Regions from separate parts of the Homo sapiens genome. Here all the other regions are linked to region 3. Evidence: fine-mapped expression QTL. A gene starts in region 3. Each other region holds a variant in brackets. All regions are shown on one strand. Distances are between the middles of the regions. Region 1 overlaps POLR3K (RNA polymerase III subunit K). Region 2 has its middle 14 kb from the start of POLR3K. Region 3 holds the start of RHBDF1 (rhomboid 5 homolog 1).

What was found. PIP is the estimated chance that this variant, and not a neighbour inherited with it, causes the effect.
Region 1: its variant is the best candidate, but not a certain one, in a credible set for the expression of RHBDF1 in monocytes after LPS (Quach 2016, PIP 0.58).
Region 2: its variant is the best candidate, but not a certain one, in a credible set for the expression of RHBDF1 in monocytes (Quach 2016, PIP 0.71).

What each region holds. Positions count from the first base shown.
Region 1 is chr16:44,770-48,897 of GRCh38, reverse strand. POLR3K (RNA polymerase III subunit K) reads left to right here. Exons shown (of 3, transcript NM_016310.5): 3 at 1,341-2,491. The coding sequence ends at 1,468. Among named protein-coding and RNA genes, the nearest start is that of POLR3K, 6.8 kb to the left of the region's middle. The variant T/ATTTATTT (reference allele first, on the strand shown) is at 2,154.
Region 2 is chr16:37,112-41,340 of GRCh38, reverse strand. No RefSeq gene overlaps it. Among named protein-coding and RNA genes, the nearest start is that of POLR3K, 14 kb to the left of the region's middle. RefSeq lists enhancers at 1,607-2,153, 2,154-2,701. The variant A/G (reference allele first, on the strand shown) is at 2,470.
Region 3 is chr16:70,838-75,066 of GRCh38, reverse strand. It overlaps RHBDF1 (rhomboid 5 homolog 1), which reads left to right and starts at 2,436. Exons shown (of 18, transcript NM_022450.5): 1 at 2,436-2,554. LOC124903617 (a long non-coding RNA gene) reads right to left here and starts at 2,240. Exons shown (of 2, transcript XR_007064932.1): 1 at 2,131-2,240; 2 at 77-687. RefSeq lists enhancers at 1-587, 588-1,404, 1,405-2,222, 3,859-4,229 and silencers at 2,377-2,436, 2,683-2,866.

The DNA.
Region 1 (4,128 bases), 26 kb after region 3:
ACAGGCAAGAGCCACCATACCCGGCCTCTTCTCTTCTTTTCAGCCCACACCAGAATCGCCCTTAATGCTCAATTCTTTTTTTTTTTTGAGATGGAGTCTCACTCTGTTGCCCAAGCTGGAGTGCAGTGGCGCGATCTCGGCTCACTGCAAGCTCCGCCTCCCGGGTTCACGCAATTCTCTTGCCTCAGCCTCCCGAGTAGCTGGGACTGCAGGCACCCGACACCACGCCTGGCTAATTTTTTGTGTTTTTAGTAGAGACGGGGTTTCACCATGTTAGCCAGGATGGTCTCGATCTCCTGACCTCGTGATCCGCCTGCCTTGGCCTCCCAAAGTCCTGGGATTACAGGCGTGAGCCACCGCGCCCGGCCCTTAATGCTCAATTCTTGACAATGCAGGCTTTTCCCAGCATTTACTTCAAAACTCTTCCACCATCTAACCATTACTTAGTCTTAGGCATTTTGTTACAGCAGCACAAAATGGACCAAAACAGTCACCTTCCATGTTACGTTTCCAACCAGCCTTCAGCTGGATTTGAGAAGAACCATGGGACTCAGGGAGGGGAGGGGGAGAGTGTGTGAGTCACAGGTCTCCCAGATTCCCTTAGTGTTACAGCGTGGTGGGAATGACATCACTGTTTGTAGATCTACCCTTGTCAAGGGGGATCAAATGAGCAGGGAGGTTCTTTACCATCTTTAAAGATATTAAGTAGTCTGGGCACGGTGGCTCATGCCTGTAATCCCAGCACTTTGGGAGGTTGAGGTGGGCGGATCATGAGGTCAGGAGTTCGAGACCAGCCTGGCCAACATAGTGAAAACCTGTCTCTACTAAAAATACAAAAAAATTAGCCGGGTGTGGTGGCGGGCAACTGTAATCCCAGCTACTTGGGAGGCTGAGGCAAGGAGAATCACATGAACCCGGGAGGCAGAGGTTGCAGTGAGCTGAGATCGCCCCACTGCACTCCAGCCTGGGTGACTGCGAGATTCCATCTCAAAAAAAAAAAAAAAAGATATTATAGTAATACCTACTTTTTTTTTTTTTTTTTTTTTTTGAGTGCAGTGGCACGATCTTGGCTCACTGCAATCTCTGCCTCCTGGGTTCAAGCGATTCTCCTGCCTCAGCCTCCCAAGTAGCTGGGATTAAAGGCGCCCGCCACCACGCCTGGCTAATTTTGTATTTTTAGTAGAGATGGGGTTTCACCATGTTGGCCAGGATGGTCTCGAACTCCTGACCTCAGGTGATCCGCCCGCCTTGGCCTCCCACATATTAAGTAATACCTACTTTTGACAGCCATGAGTAGCATCTTTTTTTAAATGTGGTCACTTCTTTTTTCTCATTGCCAGAGTCGTGTCCCAAATGCGAACATCCTCGTGCTTACTTCATGCAGCTTCAGACCCGCTCTGCAGATGAGCCGATGACCACCTTCTACAAGTGCTGCAATGCTCAGTGTGGACACCGCTGGAGGGATTAGGGCCAGGATGGCCCAGCTGCCCTAGTGTGTGCTTGCCTTGTCCCTCGGGGTAGATGCTTAGCTGGCAGTATGAGTTGTGTGTCCTGAGGGTCTTTGCTAGTGTGGTGGAAAGATAAACCTTTTGAGGTGAAGAGCCAGGGGGTCAGGAAATATGGCCTATCTGCCAGGCAGGGTGGATGAAGTCATGAATGTCTGGGAGTTTTTCTGTGTGGGGAGGAGACAGAGACCCATAACTAAATATGCTCTGTGTAAAGTCCTATTCTTTCATCTTCCACTTTATTGGCAGTTGACATTCCCTTACTCCCAATCAACACTCTTAAATATTTGTACTGTTTGTAAAACTTAGTACATGTCCCTAAATATTTAACTGTTACTTGTAAACTTGTGTAATTTATTATTTATTTTAATCAAAATTCTGAATATTTCATTTAAATGAAAGTTGGAATATTGCCTTCTCAGTGTTTTAAATAGCTTAAGAGGTAGAAAGCAAACCCCAAATCACAGTGATCCCAGAATAGACTACATACTTACATTTGAACAGGCTACGAAAATGTTAATCACCGGGATTTCAATTTCTTTCTTTATTCCTATTCTTACTCCCTTATTCATTTTTTTGAACCTCCCCTGATTTGCTTCCTCGGGTTGCTTTAAATGTATAAGATACTATTTATTTATTTATTTATTT[T/ATTTATTT]ATTTATTTATTTATTTATTTAAGACAGAGTCTTGTTCTGTCGCCCAGGCTGGAGTGCAGTGGTACGAATTCAGCTCACTGCAACCTCTGCCTTCCGGGTTCAAGGGATTCTCCTGTCTCAGCCTCCCAAGCAGCTGGGACTACAGGCATGCACCACCACACCTGGGTAATTTTGCATTTTTAGTAGAGATGGGGTTTCTCCATGTTGGTCGGGCTGGTCTCCAACTCCTGACCTCAGATAATCTGTCTGCCTCGGCCTCCTAAAGTGCTGGGATTACAGGCGTGAGCCACTGTGTCCCACCAATCTTTACATTTAATATGACTATTTTCTTATTGTTTGAACATGTTGATCAGTTCCTGATCACAATATGGGGCCTATCCTATATGGGTCCTAGAGTGGTTGGATTTTATTTTTTAACCTAAACACAGACCCTAGGTTTGAAAGGGTGTACTGGGTCTGTTAGACTTATAGGCATTTTTTTTTTTTTTAATACTTAGCCATGCATCTCTTGCATTGTCACTCCTTTAGGAGTGCATCTGTCTTCTAAGGGTTAGCTCTCCTAACTCTTTTAAATCCCCTCTAATTTGATTAATGATTGGGGGCAGCCTTCTGAACAATATTTCACGGGACGAATACCCAGTTTGTTTGGTGGGGGTGTACCTGACTTGGAGGAGGACCATGGGCGAGACCCGATCTTATTTTAGATGAGTTTCTTGACAAAATTTTTTCAGCAGCTGTTTGAGTGTCTGGTTCGTGCACTGTACTTGAGCTCTGTGGCCTGTAGGATGTACGCAATTTCCACTTTATTTTTAATAGTCTAGTTAAGTCCTGAACTCTTGCAGCCACAAATGTTGGTCCATTGTCTGATCTCAGAGGCAGTCCAAATCTGGGAATAACGTCTCCTAACAACACCTGAGTCACTTCTAGTGCCTTCTCTGTCCAGATGGAGAAGGCCTCGACTTATCCTGAAAAGGTGCAAATGAACACCCACATGCACTGATAGCCCCCCTTTCAGGGCAATTTGGCGAAGTCCATAAGCAGCTTTTCACAGGGCATGGCTGGCTCATGTTTCCTGAACTCCTGGGGGCCAAGCAGGCCCTTGTTATGGATTGTTCTGAACACAAGTTAAACACTGTTTGTTTACAAATGGCTTGAGTAATAGCAGCGAGCCATGGCACATAGAAATGATGCCTTAATAATGTCTTTAGTGCTGTTTGTTTTTTTTCCCATGTGAGTTCCTTGGTGGAACTGTTCTACAAATCGGGGTCACCATTTCAGGTATGGCCTCCCATTGGAGAATTTTACCGTCCTCCTTCAATGTAGTTCTTATTTTTCTGGGCAAACCAAGCCCTTTTATTTGCAGGGGTGCTTGGGATCTCTGGGAGGGAATCTCCGGGAGGAGAGGCATAGCTGAGGCCTCCTCTTTAGAAGGTGGAGTTGTCACTGCAGCCTGCTTTGCCTTTTTGCCTTTCTATTTTTTTTAGCCTTTGGTGTTCTTGCTTTTCGGTGCCTCTCGCAGGGCATCATGGCCACCTCTTTTGGGGCTCATACAGCATCTAAGAGCTGCAAAATTTCTTCCTTGTGCTTTTTTTTTTTTTTACTTTCAGTAGTTAAAAGGCTTTTTTTTTTTTTTTTTTTTGTAAATAGCCTCATGAACATGCAAAGTGGCAGAAGCATATTTGGAATCTTTGTAAATATTTGTCTTTTGGTCTTTTCCTAGCCAGGGAGTTCTTGTCAGAGCTATCAGCTCTGATTTCTAAGCAGAAGTTTCTGTAGGCAAAGACTGCACCTTTACTACTGAGTCCGAAGTCACCACTGCGTACCCAGCTTGGTGGACTCCCTTTAGTATGAAATTGCTTCCATCAGTAGAGTATTCAATGTCTGAGTCCCCGAGGGGCCGATCTGGTACATCTCTCTGGCTTGAGAACACTTTATCTACCAAGTCCACACAGCAATGAAGGGGGCCTCTTGGCA
Region 2 (4,229 bases), 34 kb after region 3:
CAGGGAGAAGCATATTACAGAAGTGAGAAACGAAGGTAGTTATTTAATTAATTGAGACATGCATTACATCATTTCTCACTTTTCAAAGAAAAACATGTTTTGCGACTTGAGTTTATCTGTCTAGTGACCTTGCAGCTGCACGGCTAGAGAAGCAGGGTCTTCACGATGCCTGGGAAAGGAGGAGAGATAAGGCTCACTAGCCACGGAAAAACAGGCAGTCAATTTTTAAAGGACTCCAGCTCTTTCTCTTTCTCAGGGGAACTGGGTTTTCTTACATACAACTGAGTTTCTGCTTACACATTCTTTAATTTCTTTTAATTCCTGTTCCAACGCAATCCCAGCTCACTGCAGCCTGGACCTCCTGGGCTCAAGCGATCCTCCCACCTCAGCCTCCCGAGTGGCTGGAACTACAGGTGCGCACCATGCCCAGCTTGTTGTTATTATTATTATTATTATTATTTATTATTATTATTATTTTTGAGATGGAGTTTTGCTCTTGTTGCCCAGGGTGGAGTGCAATGTCATGATCTCGGCTCACTGCAACCTCTGCCTCCCGGGTTCAAGCTATTCTCCTGCCTCAGCCTCCTGAGTAGCTGGGATTCCAGGCATGTGCTACCATGCCTGGCTTATTTTGTATGTTTAGTAGAGACGGGGTTTCTCCATACTGGTCAAGCGGGGCTTGAACTCCTGACTTCAAGTGATCCGCCCACCTCAGCCTCCCAAAGTGCTAGGGTTAAAGGCATGAGCCACTGCGTCTGGCCTAATTTTTATATATATTTTTTTGTAGAGACAGGGCTTTGCCATGTTGCCCAGGCTGGTAACTTCCATATGTTTTTTATAGGCAATTTTTTTTATTTTATACTTTTTATTTAATTTTTTTGAATTTAACCTCAGAATGTGATTATAGACAAAATTCAAAACATAATAATTGAGTTTAATTTTTGTAATGTGGGTCTATTACTGAGAAGAGTGGATGCCATTTTGCTTCATTGGGGTTCAAAGTTAGTGTTCCCTGTCATTGAAATCAATTGCAAATGTGCATCTGTGAATGCTGGTTACATCCAGGAGAGCAAATGAAGTATACCATTGACACCACTGATAGAGTCAATAGATTCACCACTGATAATGGATTCAGATATTTCCCACAGAGTTCTTGCTGTTGAATAATGCAGTGAAGTCAGGCACAGTGGCTCACGCCTGTAATCCTAGCACTTTGAGGCTGAGGTTGGCGGATCACCTCAGGTCAGGGGTTCGAGACCAGCCTGGCGAACACGGCGAAACCTCATCTTTACTAAAAATACAAAAATTAATCTGGGTGCAGTGGCTCATGCTGGGCATGGTGGCACAGCTTGTAATCCCAGCTATTCTGGAGGCTGAGGTAGGAGAATCACTGGAACCTGGAAGGCAGAGGTTGCAGTGAGCTGAGATCGTGTCATTGCACTCCAGCCTGGGTGACAGAGTGAGACTCCGTCTCAATAATAATAATGATAATAATAATAATAATAATAATGATGATGGAGTGAAAACCATACACTTTAAGCACTTTATGTTTTCATAAGCTTCGTACATTTGTCCACCTAAGCTTTTTCCTGCCCCACACATGCTTTTACCGCCGCCAGTTTTAACACATATTTACACTTCCTTTTTTGCTGCATTAGTGTCTCATCTTTGGGAATATTCTTGCTGCAGTTGTTTTTTTTTTTTTTTGAGACAGGGTTTCACTGTCACCTAGGTTGGAGTAAAGTGGCGCAATAACGACTCACCACAACCTGAAATTGCCGGGCTCAGGAGATCCTCCCACCTCAGCCTCCCAAGGAGCTGGGACTATAGGCGTGGGCCACCCTGCCCAGCTAAGGGAGGGTGAATGGCTGAGCTTGCCTGAAGACCCTCCCGTGGGTGTGGCAGAGCCTGTGGTCTGAGGGAGGGGTCTAGCTGCAGGGCAGCGCACAGCTTCACAGTGGCCCAGGGAACCAGGGCAGGCAGGCCGTGAGGCCCAGTGGTCATCTGGGCCAGGCCTTGATGCTGAGGCCATGGAACAGGTGAGGCTCTAAGAAGGGCCCAGAGTGACCATGGGCTGGAGGCTATGTCCACAGACCCAGTGCAGGAGAGGGTGTCCTGGGCAGTGATGTCAGCCAGGCTCCCTAGCAGGACTGGGGGTGTCGGGGCAGCTCTTTCCCAGGTGGCAGACACTGGCTTCCCCTCTTGCTCTCACAACTGTCCTGTGACCTGGTGTCTGAGCTGTGGTGAGGCCTCCCTGGTGACACAGAGGAGCACGGAGCATGTGGGTGGGGGTGTGTGCACCTGCCCTGACTTCCTGGTCCTGTGGTCAAGGATGGGGGAAGGTAGATCTGCCTGTAGCTCCACCCTATTTGTAAAGCACTGTGGTGCCTTCTGCTGGGGCATGTGCTGAGTGGTGCCTCGCAGGCACTGCCCTCGGGAAGTTCACAGGCTTGTGTAGAAGCTGATGGG[A/G]ATGTGCCAAGAACAGAGGTGTCAGGAGCCAGGTATTGGGCAGGTCCTAGGTCTCTGAGCCTCAGTCTCCTTATCTGTAGGAGGGTGGTAACCCTGCCCTGCTCAGCTTACCAGGTGCAGCTGTGAGTTTTCAGTGCAGAGGAAAAGCAGAGACCTTCCCCTCAGATGGCCATACCCCCTTGTCGCTATACCCAACACTCTAATGCTCCCCTAGGGAGTGTCCTGGGCTCCTCCTTTGTAGCTCTCAGGTGTCACATGTGGGTCTTGCCCTACCATCCCCTCTCCCTTTCTAGAAATGAGGACTGCTGAGCTTGGAGCCGCCCCACTCCCTGCTCTCAAGCCGTCTGCTCCTGGGTTAGCCTGTGGCTGGCCTGGCCTGATTCTACACCGACGTGGGTGTTTCTCCACTGCTGGGGCAGCGGTCGGCCATCCTGGGGCCTGGGTCAGCTCTCAGCTGTGGCTGTTGTGCCTGTGCTTCCCCAGGTCCTGGTGGTCACTCCAACCCCGCCCTCAGATATCCCAAGAGCAGGCTGACTGTCTTCCCCATTCCCACCTTTCCAGTAGCTGCTGCAAGAAGGGACAGACGTTGCTGCAGAGAACTTGCCACGGTGTTTCATGTTGTGGCCGGTGGTGCCAGACTGCACGCTCCATTCTAGGGAAGGGTGAGTCTTCCCGATCATCAGTCTTAACAGGGGACTGTCCTGTGGGTACCTGGGTAGGCTGCAGGAGTGGGGTTAGAGTAGTGCCTACTGCCTGTTGAGAGTGTGTGAGTTCCTTAAGAGCATGCATGCTGGGCCAGGCATGGTGGCTCATGCCTGTAATCCCAGCACTGTGGGAGACTGAGGCGGGCGGATCATGAGGTCAGGAGTTCAAGACCAGCCTGACCAACATGGTGAAACCCTGTCTCTACTAAAAATACAAAAATTAGCTGGGAGTGGTGGTGCGCACCTGTAATCCCAGCTACTCAGGAGGCTGAGGCAGGAGAATCACTGGAACCCAGGAGGCAGAGTTTGCAGTGAGCCGAGATCGTGCCACTGCACTCTAGCCTCTGTCTCAAAAAAAAAGAAAAAACAAGGCGTGCATGCTGTAGTCTGTGTGTATGTCTGTTTTTGTTCTCCTCCTTAACACTAGTCAGTCTTGTGTAACCAGGCTGGCCCTGCTTCCTGCTTAGAAGCTATTGGTGTATCATCTGGAGCTGCAAATAGGGTGATAGGGCGTCAGTAGCCTTCCCACACTCAAGAGCTTCCTGACACCCAGCCCCTCATCTCCAGCCAGCCTCTGGCTACCCCAGGAATCTTGGGGCTCAGGCCTAACACTCCAGCATAGAGGGCTTTGCCCTTCTGGTGTACTCTCGCTTGGAGGCATCTTGGAACAGGGGTACAACAGAGCTCTGGAAGTGCTGTCTGTTGCATCGATACCCCACTGCCACTTTCGTCCACCTTCCTGGGGCAGAATCCTGGGATGGGTCTTTATTTAAGACAAAAGGGAGAGAGAAGGCATAGAGGCTAGGCATGGTGGCTCACTCCTGTAATCCCAGGACTTTGGGAGGCCGAGGCTGGTGGATCACTTGAGGTCACGGGTTTGAGACCAGCCTGGCCAACACGGTGAAACCGTCTCTACTAAAAATACAAAAAAAATTAACTGGGTGGCAGTGTGCACCTGTAATCCCAACTACTTGAGAGGCTGAGGCAGAAGAATCACCTGAACCCAGGAGTCGGAGGTTGCAGTGAGCCGAGATCACGCCACTGCACTCCAGCCTC
Region 3 (4,229 bases):
GCACACACTTGTCTATGTGGACTGGGTACAATCCTGAGTTTCGTGCGCGTCCGTGTGAAGAGACCACCAAGCAGGCTTTGTGTGAGCAACAAGGCTGTTTATTTCACCTGGGTGCAGGCGGGCTGAGTCCGAAGAAAAGAGAGTCAGGGAAGGGAGATGGGGTGGGACCGTTTTATAGGGTTTGGGCGGGCAGTGGAAAATTACAGTCAAAGGGGGTTGTTCTGTGGCGGGGAGGAGTGGGGGTCACAAGGTGCCTCAGTGGGGGAGCTTCTGAGCCAGGAGAAGGAATTTCACAAGGTAATGTCATCAGTTAAGGCAGGAACCGGCCATTTTCACTTCTTTTGTGATTCTTCACTTGCTTCATCTGGATGTATACGTGCAGGCTTGGGCTCAGAGGCCTGACACTGAGCACACGTGTATCGACCCCCCTCTGATCATCCTTCTGATGACCTCACTCAGGAGGCCAGGGTGGGCTGAGAGCCTGGGGATTCCTGGACACAGGCTCTGAGCTGGGGATTTGCCTGCAGAGGCAGACTGGGGCATGCTCCCCACTGAAGGTGACTCCTGGGTGCGGGGGGTTTCAGCTCTGAGCCAGCTGTGACTGGTGCTCCTGGCAGCTGGCGATGAGTGTCTGGGTCTTGGAGCGGGTCTAGGTGGGGTCTGACAGAGTCCACTGCAGGAGGAGACCTGCTGACACCAGATGCCCAGCTGTGGCATGCTTTGGAGGCAAGCCCAGTCCCCAGCTTTCCAGAGAGGACACCACTTCTGGCCCTGCCAGCCTAGTCTGGGCATCCAGGCCCGATAGGGCTTGCTTATCCCTGGCAGGTCAATAATGCTAAGCATGGAGACTGTCCTGTCTCTGGCTGTGAGCCTGGCATGGGAGGGGTGGCACGTGCAGGCTATCGGAGCACTGAGTGTTGGCACTGGGGCAGGCTCCCTCTCACCCGGTGTCCGTGATGCACTGGCAGTCATCCCCTGGTGGAGTTACCCTCCACCCCCTCCAAAGCTTCCATTGTCTCCTTCTACATGAGAATTGTGTTGATATTGCTTGTGTTCAGAGAGCACCCATTATGTGCAGGCACCGCCCTATCCCGTGGCATGGACAAGGATATGGGCAGGGGAATCTTGCCCAGGCTCTGGGATCTACCGGTAAGTGTACCAGCACCTTTAGTTCAAATTCTCCCCTTTTCTGTCTAGCCAAGGAGCAGGCCATTGTCTGCGTCGGGCCCTCAAGTGCAACAGCTCAGTTTGGAGAGGGCTGGTGCCACCCAGACCCAGAGGATGGCACTGAAGCAGCAGCACCTTGTGACCAGCACAGGGCCTGAAGACACATTTGTCCGAGGCATGGGGGGGCACCCTGTAGAGGGGTCCTTAGGGACCCATGGGACGAAGGGATCCCTGCACCCTCTATCCAGAGGAAGCCTTGGCCACCCACCACTCAGAGCTCCTGGACAGCCCTGCCCGTACTCTGCTGTTGGCACCCCTGTCCCCCACCCTGGGAGGGTCAGCCCACCCAGTGTCAGGAGAGAAATGCTGGGAAACTCTCACCAGCAGCCCCAGCGGAAAGCAGAGTGCCATTTTGAGTCCAGCCCAGATTGTGCAGGGATATGAGCCCACCCCGGGGTGGCCGCTGAGCTCTGAGACAGTGAGAAGAGCCCAGAGTGGACACCAGACACTGCGCTGCCTCTGCTGAGTGGCTTCGGGTGGGGCCGGTGCAGCCTGGCCTGAGTGCCTGCTGGTGGAGCGGGGCTTCTGGGGGTAGGGGCACAGGGCAGGGGGAGGGGTAATGACTGTGGTCCTGAACTGAGTGTGTGCATCGGTGTGTACACGTGTGTGTGTGCACGTGTATGTACCCATGAAAGATGTACATGAGTAGGTGGGTGCATGTGAGCACGTGCATGTGCAGGCGAATGAACGCATGAAGTGGAAGGATGTGGGGACGTGTGTGTATGATTGTGAGTGATCGGTGCACATGAATGTGTGTGAGGGAATGTGAGTGCTTAGTGGGATTGGGTGAGTGTGGGATACAGGACTTGTCAGCGTGGGCCTCTGGAGGAGGTCGGGTTTAGGGGAGCCAGGGATACACACCCATCCTCCGCCCTTTACCCCGTGCCTGCTCTCCCTCCTCACCCTCTTCTCAGCACAAATCAGGGCAGGACAGCTCAAGCCTCAATCTGGAGCCAGGGAGAGGCGGAGCCGCCCAGCGCTGACACTGCGGTCCGCTCCCACCAGGTCCTCCGTCGGGCCGAGGCGCTGGAGACCCCAGCCCCAGGTGTCCCCGCAGGCGGACCCTGGGGAGAAGGGAGCCCGGCGGCCTTCCGGGAGGAGGTGACTTGGGCCGGGCAGGCGGGCGGCGCGCATTCCTGAGCTCTGAGTCAGCGCGACCGCCCCGCTCCGGCCGGGCCCGCCCCCGGGCGCACGCCCCTCGCTCCAGGGCATTCCCGGGCGGGCCGGACCGGCGGGCGGGCGGGGACTCGGCGCGGGCCCTCCCGGCCAGCGGCGGCAGCCTCCTCCCCGGCGCCCTCAGGACCCCCCAGAGCCCCCGGCGGCGGCAGTGAGTGAGCGCGGCCGGGAGCGCAGGGCTCCGGGGGCGGGCGGGTTCCGGGGCTGCGTCCGGAGGGCGGGGCGAGTCCTCAGCACCCGGGGCCGGAGCTGCTCAGAGCGGCCGGGGCCGTGTCGGGGCCGGGGCCGGGGCCGGGGAGGGGTCGCGGCGAGGCCCCCCCGGGGCGGCCGGGCTTTTCTTCCTGGAGTTTCCCGAGTCGCCCGCGGAGGCGGCCCAGCCCCGGATTCCTAGCCCGGCGCGCCGCAAAAATAGCCCGTGGCCGGATTAGCAGCCCCAGCGGCCTGGCCGGGCGGGACAGCTCGGCTCCAGCCCCCGCCCAACAGCTGAGGGTCCCAGGAGCGGGAGTCTAGAGTCCGGGGGTGCCCCAGGTTCCTCTGAACTCCCCCCGCTGCATTTTCCTTCCCGGCCACGACCGGCGGGTGGTGTCTCCGAGCTGAAACTCCAGCCCAGGGCGGGATGGTCCCTGTCCCGGCTGCCCTCACCGATGGGAATAGCAGGAGCCGTGGAGCTGGGGGTGGGGGACTGACTCCGCCTTCTGCCCCACGACACTGACTCCCCCATCTGTACACTTCGAAGCTCCAGGGTGGGCTGGGAGCGACTCCCGAAGACAGACTCTCACTCTGTGCGCAGAGGCCAACGGGGACAGGCCTTCTCCCGGCTGGGGTGACAGCCAGACCCCAGATGCTCAGGGCATTGGCAGAGGGCCTGGTTGTCTGTCATGCTGGGGGCATGTTTGTGGGGCTGGGCGGGGAATGGGCAGGGGATCTTCCCTGGCCCCCCAGGGCCTGCTTCCGACCGAGGTGGTCCTGACCAGAGTTTCTTCTGTGTGTGCCGCTTGAGATGGTGAATGTGTGTGTCTGTCCCGGTGGGTGGGGCCTAGGTCTGGAGGCCCTTCTCCTATCCTGGGAACTCCCACCCGCCAACGGGACTTCCTGTTGGAGACCGGGAGAAGATTCAAGGATGAAACTGGCTTTTCAGGTTTGACCCAGCTAGATGCCTGGGCAGTCCCAGGCTCGGTTCTCCTCACCCCTGTGGAGCTAACCCCAACCTCCTAGCCCCGACCCCAAGGGTGGGCAGAAGCTGGGGACCAAGCAGCTGGCTGGGGCTCAAGGGGTCCCTGAGGCGGAGCCCCCTGCCACCAGGGGTCATTCTGGGCAAGCCGGGCCCCTTTTCCTGAGAATGGGGCAGGGGCAAATGGAGTGCATGGGAGTCTGGTGGTGCCAGATTGAAGGGGCCTCAGACCCTTTCCCAGCCCTTCCAAGTAGCTTTCACTGGCTGGGTGGCCTCCGTTGCACAAGCAGGCCCCTCAACCAGCACCCCTCATGAGCTGGCCGGTCCCCACCTTGGGGAGCTGACTTTCTAGGGTGCGCTCTTGGTTTAGGGGGAGTCGTCCAGGTCTCCCCTGCCTTTCAGGGACCATCAGGCCCTCCCCTAGGATCTTCCCAGCTACAGTCCCTGCCCAGGGCACCCCCAGTTGCTCTTGGCTGTGAGGGCCTCCGCCACACCGGCTCCAGTTCCCCCACCTCAGTGTCTGTGCCAGGATCACATTTTGCCCAGTGATTGGATTCCTTGGCTTCTGCCTTTTTTTCTGAGTTGGACGATTTTGGGGGTGAGTCCTTCCTTCTTCAACTGAGATGCCCCTGATGGAGCAGGTGGCAAGGGGTCT